Regions from separate parts of the Homo sapiens genome. Here region 1 is linked to region 2. The links come from fine-mapping of genetic effects on gene expression. A gene starts in region 2. The other region holds a variant in brackets. All regions are shown on one strand. Distances are between the middles of the regions. Region 1 has its middle 48 kb from the start of GNG13. Region 2 holds the start of RPUSD1 (RNA pseudouridine synthase domain containing 1).

Region 1 (2,894 bases), 60 kb after region 2:
ACCTTCTCCCAGCGGCCCGGGGTGCTGACCTGGCTCAGTGCCTCTTCTTTCCTTTGCTGAGTGTTCTTTCCTCTTTTTTGTTGTTCAGATGAGAGTCTGTTGATGTTCCTCCAGCATGTCCACATGGCTGCGGGTGAAGGGCTTCACAGTAGCCCACCGTGGGCAGGTGTTTAAGGAACAACTTCCAGGTTAGGAAAAAGATGAGGCAGAGGAGATGGCCCCACCTGCCACCCAAGAGAAAAAGAGGCTCAGGGAGGGGAGGAAAGGATGTTGCGGCCCGCCATCTGTCTGCACACCAACCGTCAGAGCTGACGGAAGCTTTCGCCAACTTGCTTCCAGCAATGGGCCAACGACAATCAAGGCGGCTATGACGGCCAGTCCAGGGCTGGTTTGAAAGCTGTAACAGTTTGGACAGTGTGGTATGACCTGGGCAGGTATAGATCACACTGGGTCAGGTGTAAACCCTAGAACGGTGAGCCACCAACCCAGACTCAGCGGGTCAGCTGCGGCCCCTGGCCAGGCGGCCCAGGCAAAGTAAGGTGGCCGCAGCCCTGCAGGGAGGGTGGCACTGTCCGCAAACCCTCCCGGTGCCCCGGGTTCCCCAATGCGCTCAGACCTGGGGGTGGGCACGGAGGCCCCCCAGCCTTCCCCTGCCTAGTGCCTGGGGTGCTTCTTCCCAGCGCCTGGAGGTTTCCATCCCTCCCGCACACAGCGCTTGGAGCAAGATGGGAGGGAGGTGCCTGCTTGCTGCCTCCTGCTGGTGTGTGGGAGCCCAGGTGAACACTGGGTGGTGCGGAAAGCCACCAGCGTGATGTGGGAAGGCCATTTGCTAAGCGCCAGGTGGGCCCGGGTGTGGGCTGGGTGGGCAGCCTGGCTCGCGGCGTAAGGGGCAAGCTATCCAGGCAGCAGTGGGCTGAGAATTGCCGGCATCACCTGTCATTTGCTCGCGTGGTCCTCAGTGAATCAAAGTTTGCATGTCCGTGACTGCGGCCATCATCAGAGCTTGTGGGACCACTGGTGGCTCCGTACGGCACTTTCGGGTTAACCAGCATCCAGGTGCACTGAGCCTTGGTCTTAAGCGGCTCCAGCCCCATGCAC[G/A]CCACAGAGAAGGAGTGAAGCGCGTTCCCTGCCCGGCATCCTGAGCCCCACTGGACCTTCTGGCAGGGTGAGGGTCTGGGCCCTGAGGCAGGGAGGCCCAGGGTCTCAGGACGCTTAAGACACTCTGCTTTGCTTTGCTGTATTTCAAAACATTGAGGTGAAGTTGACATTTACATAAAATTAACCACTTAAAGGTCAGCAGTGTGGTGCACGTAACACATTGGCCACACGCACAACCAGCATCTCTGCCTAATTCCAGATATTTTCATCACCCGCCAGAGAACCTTCTGGACCTGTGAGCCGTCATGCCCGCTCTCCCTGTTCCTGCCAGCAGCCCCGAGAGCCGTCCACCTTCTCCCTGCCCAGCGTCTCTGTGGGTTTCCCTGTTCTGGACATTCCAGAGACGGCATCGCAGGACCGGTGCCCTCTGTGTCTGGCGGGTTCACTGGGCATCAGGTTCTCAAGGCTCATCTGAGCGTCGGGGCCTCGCTCCTCTTTGCGGCTGCGTAATGCTCATGGGTGAGCACACCTGGTCTGTTCATCTGGGCTGTCCCCACCTCTGGGCTGCTGCAAACGTTCCGGTGCAAGCACACCCAGGTCCCCGTTTCCCGCTCTCCCGGGTCTACATGCAGATGTGGAGTTGCGGGGTCACGTGGTTCCCGTTTCTAGCTCTCCCAGGTCTACGTGCAGACGTGGAGTTGCGGGGTCACGTGGTCCCCGTTTCTAGCTCTCCCGGGTCTCCGTGCAGACGTGGAGTTGCGGGGTCACGTGGTCGCCGTTTCTAGCTCTCCCGGGTCTACGTGCAGACGTGGAGTTGCGGGGTCATGTGGTCATCCGTCTACACTGAACATTTCGAGGAACCCCCAGACAGTCTCCACGTGGCCACATCATTCTGATGCATGGCAGACGAGCCCGAAAGAGGAGCTTAGTCCCAGAGGGTTCTTGGCTTTGCCCAGGAAAGAATTCAAGGTCGAGCCAGAGGTGGAAGGAAACAGCTTTACTTCAGAGGTGGGGTTACAGCTGTGGCTGCTCCCGCAGGGCAGGGCTTCCACAGACAGCAGCCCGGGGCAGCTCTGCAGTCTCACTTATAGCCACAGTTTTTTTTTTTAAAGACAGAATATTACTCTATTGCCCAGGCTGGAGTGCAGTGGTACGGTCTCAGCTCACTGCAACATCTGCCTCCCGGGTTCAAGCGATTCTTCTGCCTCAGCCTCCCGAGTAGCTGGGACTACAGGTGCCTGCCACGCCAGGCTAATTTTTGTATTTTTGGCACAGACGGGGTTTCACTATGTTGGCCAGGCTGGTCTCAAACTCCTGACTTCAGGTGATCCGCCTGCCTTGGCCTCCCAAAGTGCTGGGATTACAGGTGTGAGCCACTGTACCCGGCCAGAAATGTCAAATTTTGATGAAGTCCAATTTATTTTCTGTGTTGTTGCCGGTGCTGTTGTTGTCATATCCAAGAAAACACTGCCAAATCCAATGTCCTTAAGATTTTCCCAGGTTTTATTCTGAGTCTTACAGTTTTAGCTCTTACATTTAGGTGTTTCATCCTATGTTTTTTGGGTTAATTTTTGTGTATGCTGTTAGGTAAGGGGCCAGCTTCATTCATTATTTTGCATGTGGAGATAAAGCTTTCCCAGTACCATTTGCTGAAAAGGCTGTCCTCTTCCCATTGAATGGTCTCAGAGCCTTTGTCGGAAGGTACCAGGCCACGTGTGGGACAATTTCTTGGGTCATTCTCATCGGAAGGTACCTGGTTGTTCTCGTTGGAAGGTGCCTGGTTGTTCTTGTCGGAA
Region 2 (2,830 bases):
TGTTCCAGAACCACGAGATCTGTGAGGCTTGGCTTTGGGTTCTCACAACCTGGGGCGCAGAAGGCAGGTGTGAGGTTAGTGGGACTGACCCGGGGCCCAGGCCCACCCCAACGCACGATGCCCGCCCGGTGGGTCCCTGCCTGCCCAGGCCCACCCCAACCCACGATGCCCGCCCGGTGGGTCCCTGCCTGCCACACCCTGCGAGCCCTCGATGCACATGGTGTGGGCCCGGCCCTCCGTGCTGTTCCTGCCAATGGCATGGCTGATGGTTACCCGGCTCTCCTGGATGTGCCCCCGCAGCTGCAGGAGAGGGAGAATCGCACGCAGTTCACGGGGCAGCCCAGTGCTGCCGGGGAGCCCACCTAACACCAAGCAACCACGTAGAGCGTGGTGGGAGGCTCTGAGCCAGGGCTGCCCAAGTGGGGTGGGAATCCTGAGTCCCCACGCCCCACCCCAGGACTGACCAGGTCTTACCAATGCCAGGTAAGCCTTGGTCACGCGCCGCTCCTTGAAGCACCTGTACGCGCTGCCGGCGGCTGCCTTGTTTAGGGCCACGCACAGCGCCCCGCTGGTGGAGAAATCCAGCTGGTGGCAGAACCTGGAGTGGGACAGAGTCCAGAGTCTGAGCCACTTTCCTCCACAGACGCCACCGTGGGGCTCCGGCCGCCCCCCCTACCTGAACCCGTAGCAGGTGTCAGGGTCGGCCAGCTCGGGAAAGCGGTACCGCAGCTGCTTCTGCAGGGTCAGAGTCTCCCGCCACGCCTTGCTGTCAATGCGAACGTCCCAGTGCTTGTTGACCACCAGGAAGTCGCGGCTCCGGTACACGATGGACAGGTTCTCCACGCTGCCTGGCTCCATGGCCGGCCTGCCGAGCCACGCGTGGGTGCGTGTGCTGTGAGCACGTGGTGCGCCCCCAGCCCAGCATACAGAGGTACCCGCACCGCCCCACCCGGGCTCCGGTGCGAAGCCACCGAGCCGGGTCCGCAGCCCTACTGTGCACCTGCATCCTCAGTCCCCGAGATCAGTCCCCAGGGCGTCAGCTGGGGAGTCAAGGAGTCAGCCTGCTCCGGGCTGACCTGAAGGGCCCTGCCTGACCTAAGCCTGGAGAAAGAGCCCGTTCCAAACCTGCCCCACAGATCCTCCCCACAGACCCTCCCCTCCAGGGGATGCACGTGAATGCCTCTGCCCGACGGTGGGGGCGGGGAGGGGCTGCAGCACTACCAGGCCCGGCAGCCAGGTCTGCCCGCAGCGCGGGTTAGGGCTGGGGCCTCCTCGCTCCCCGCAGTCCGCGCAGACCCGCGCCCCGCACAGGCCCGGTGGGCAGGCCGACCCTGGCTCCGAGCCCCTCCCGCGCCCACGCCCACGCCAAGACCAACCTGCTGCCGGGCCGTGCAGTCCAGGCCCCCGATGCCGTGCCCGGCGCCGGCTCCAGCCGCGCGCCCGCGCGCTGGCGACCCAGAGACCCTGGAAGCTCCGCTCCGGACGCCTGGCAGCGCTTCCGCCCTGCACCGCTGCGCGCGCAGCCCCGCCCCCCCCCCCGGCCCGCCCCCGGCCCGCCCCCGCCGCGGAAGGGCGGCTGCGGCGGCCAATGGCGAGCTCCCCAGGACAGGACGCGGGGGCTGCGGAGCAGGAACTCGCCCCGCCCACCCCTCGCGCAGCCCCGCCTCCGCCACGCCAACCAATGGCGCGCGCCGCCGGGCACGCCGGCTGCTGATTGGCGGCGCCCGGCACGCTCGGGGCGGGCAGTGCGCGACGGCGGCGGCGGCGCGGGAGGTTCGGAGCGGGAGCTCGGGCTCGCGGACGGTATGGAGGACTACGAGCAGGAGCTGTGCGGCGTCGAGGATGATTTCCACAACCAGTTCGCGGCCGAGCTGGAGGTGCTGGCAGAGCTGGAAGGTGGGGCGCGGCCCCCGGCCGTTGGGGAGGAGCTGCGAAAGCCGGGACAGTGGCGACCTCGGGGAGGGCGTGCCGGGGGCCGAAGGGGCCTCCACGTCGCCGCTGGCGGGATCTGCTGTCTCGGGGCGGCCGCTGACAATCTCCTCTCCCAGCAGGGGCGTCGACTCCGTCGCCCTCCGGGGTCCCCCTGTTCACCGCGGGCCGACCCCCGCGGACGTTCGAGGAGGCCCTTGCCAGAGGGGACGCGGCCTCCAGTCCCGCCCCAGCCGCATCTGTGGGCAGCAGCCAGGGCGGCGCCAGGAAGAGGCAGGTGGACGCCGACCTGCAGCCGGCCGGGTCCCTGCCCCACGGTAGGTTGGCGGCATTGCCCCAGGGCCTCCGGAGTGGGCGCGAGGCTGAGGAGGCCTCTGGTTCCCTGCATGTGTCTCCCCCAGCCCCCAGGATCAAACGGCCTAGGCTGCAGGTGGTCAAGAGGCTGAACTTCAGATCGGAGGAGATGGAGGAGCCGCCCCCTCCCGACTCCTCGCCGACGGACATCACCCCGCCGCCGAGCCCTGAGGACCTCGCAGAGCTTTGGGGCCACGGGTGTGTGGCTTGGACATGGGCGTCCCATCCCATCTGTCCAGTGGGACTCAGATGGAGCCCATCCCGTGCCCTGGATGAGGCCTGGGGGGTGGGGAGGGTTCCATGGCTGAGAGCAGTCTCGGACACCCATATCCAAGGGTGACCCCACGCTTGAGTTTCTGCCACTGAGCCCCGGTCTCTCTCCAGAGTCTCAGAAGCTGCTGCCGACGTGGGTCTCACACGGGCCTCACCAGCTGCCCGCAATCCCGTCCTGAGGCGGCCCCCCATCTTGGAGGACTACGTCCACGTGACATCCACGGAGGGCGTCCGGGCTTATCTGGTGCTGCGTGCTGACCCCATGGCCCCGGGG

Evidence for each region.
Region 1: its variant is fine-mapped to the expression of RPUSD1 in whole blood (INTERVAL, PIP above 0.99).

Annotation. Positions count from the first base shown.
Region 1 is chr16:847,301-850,194 of GRCh38, forward strand. No RefSeq gene overlaps it. Among named protein-coding and RNA genes, the nearest start is that of GNG13, 48 kb to the left of the region's middle. The variant G/A (reference allele first, on the strand shown) is at 1,099.
Region 2 is chr16:786,880-789,709 of GRCh38, forward strand. It overlaps RPUSD1 (RNA pseudouridine synthase domain containing 1), which reads right to left and starts at 1,502. Exons shown (of 6, transcript NM_058192.3): 1 at 1,377-1,502; 2 at 677-865; 3 at 475-598; 4 at 198-300; 5 at 1-49. The coding sequence starts at 858. It overlaps CHTF18 (chromosome transmission fidelity factor 18), which reads left to right and starts at 1,741. Exons shown (of 22, transcript NM_022092.3): 1 at 1,741-1,896; 2 at 2,052-2,246; 3 at 2,331-2,481; 4 at 2,668-2,830. The coding sequence starts at 1,806. RefSeq lists an enhancer at 1-775 and silencers at 1,225-1,314, 1,335-1,794, 1,975-2,034.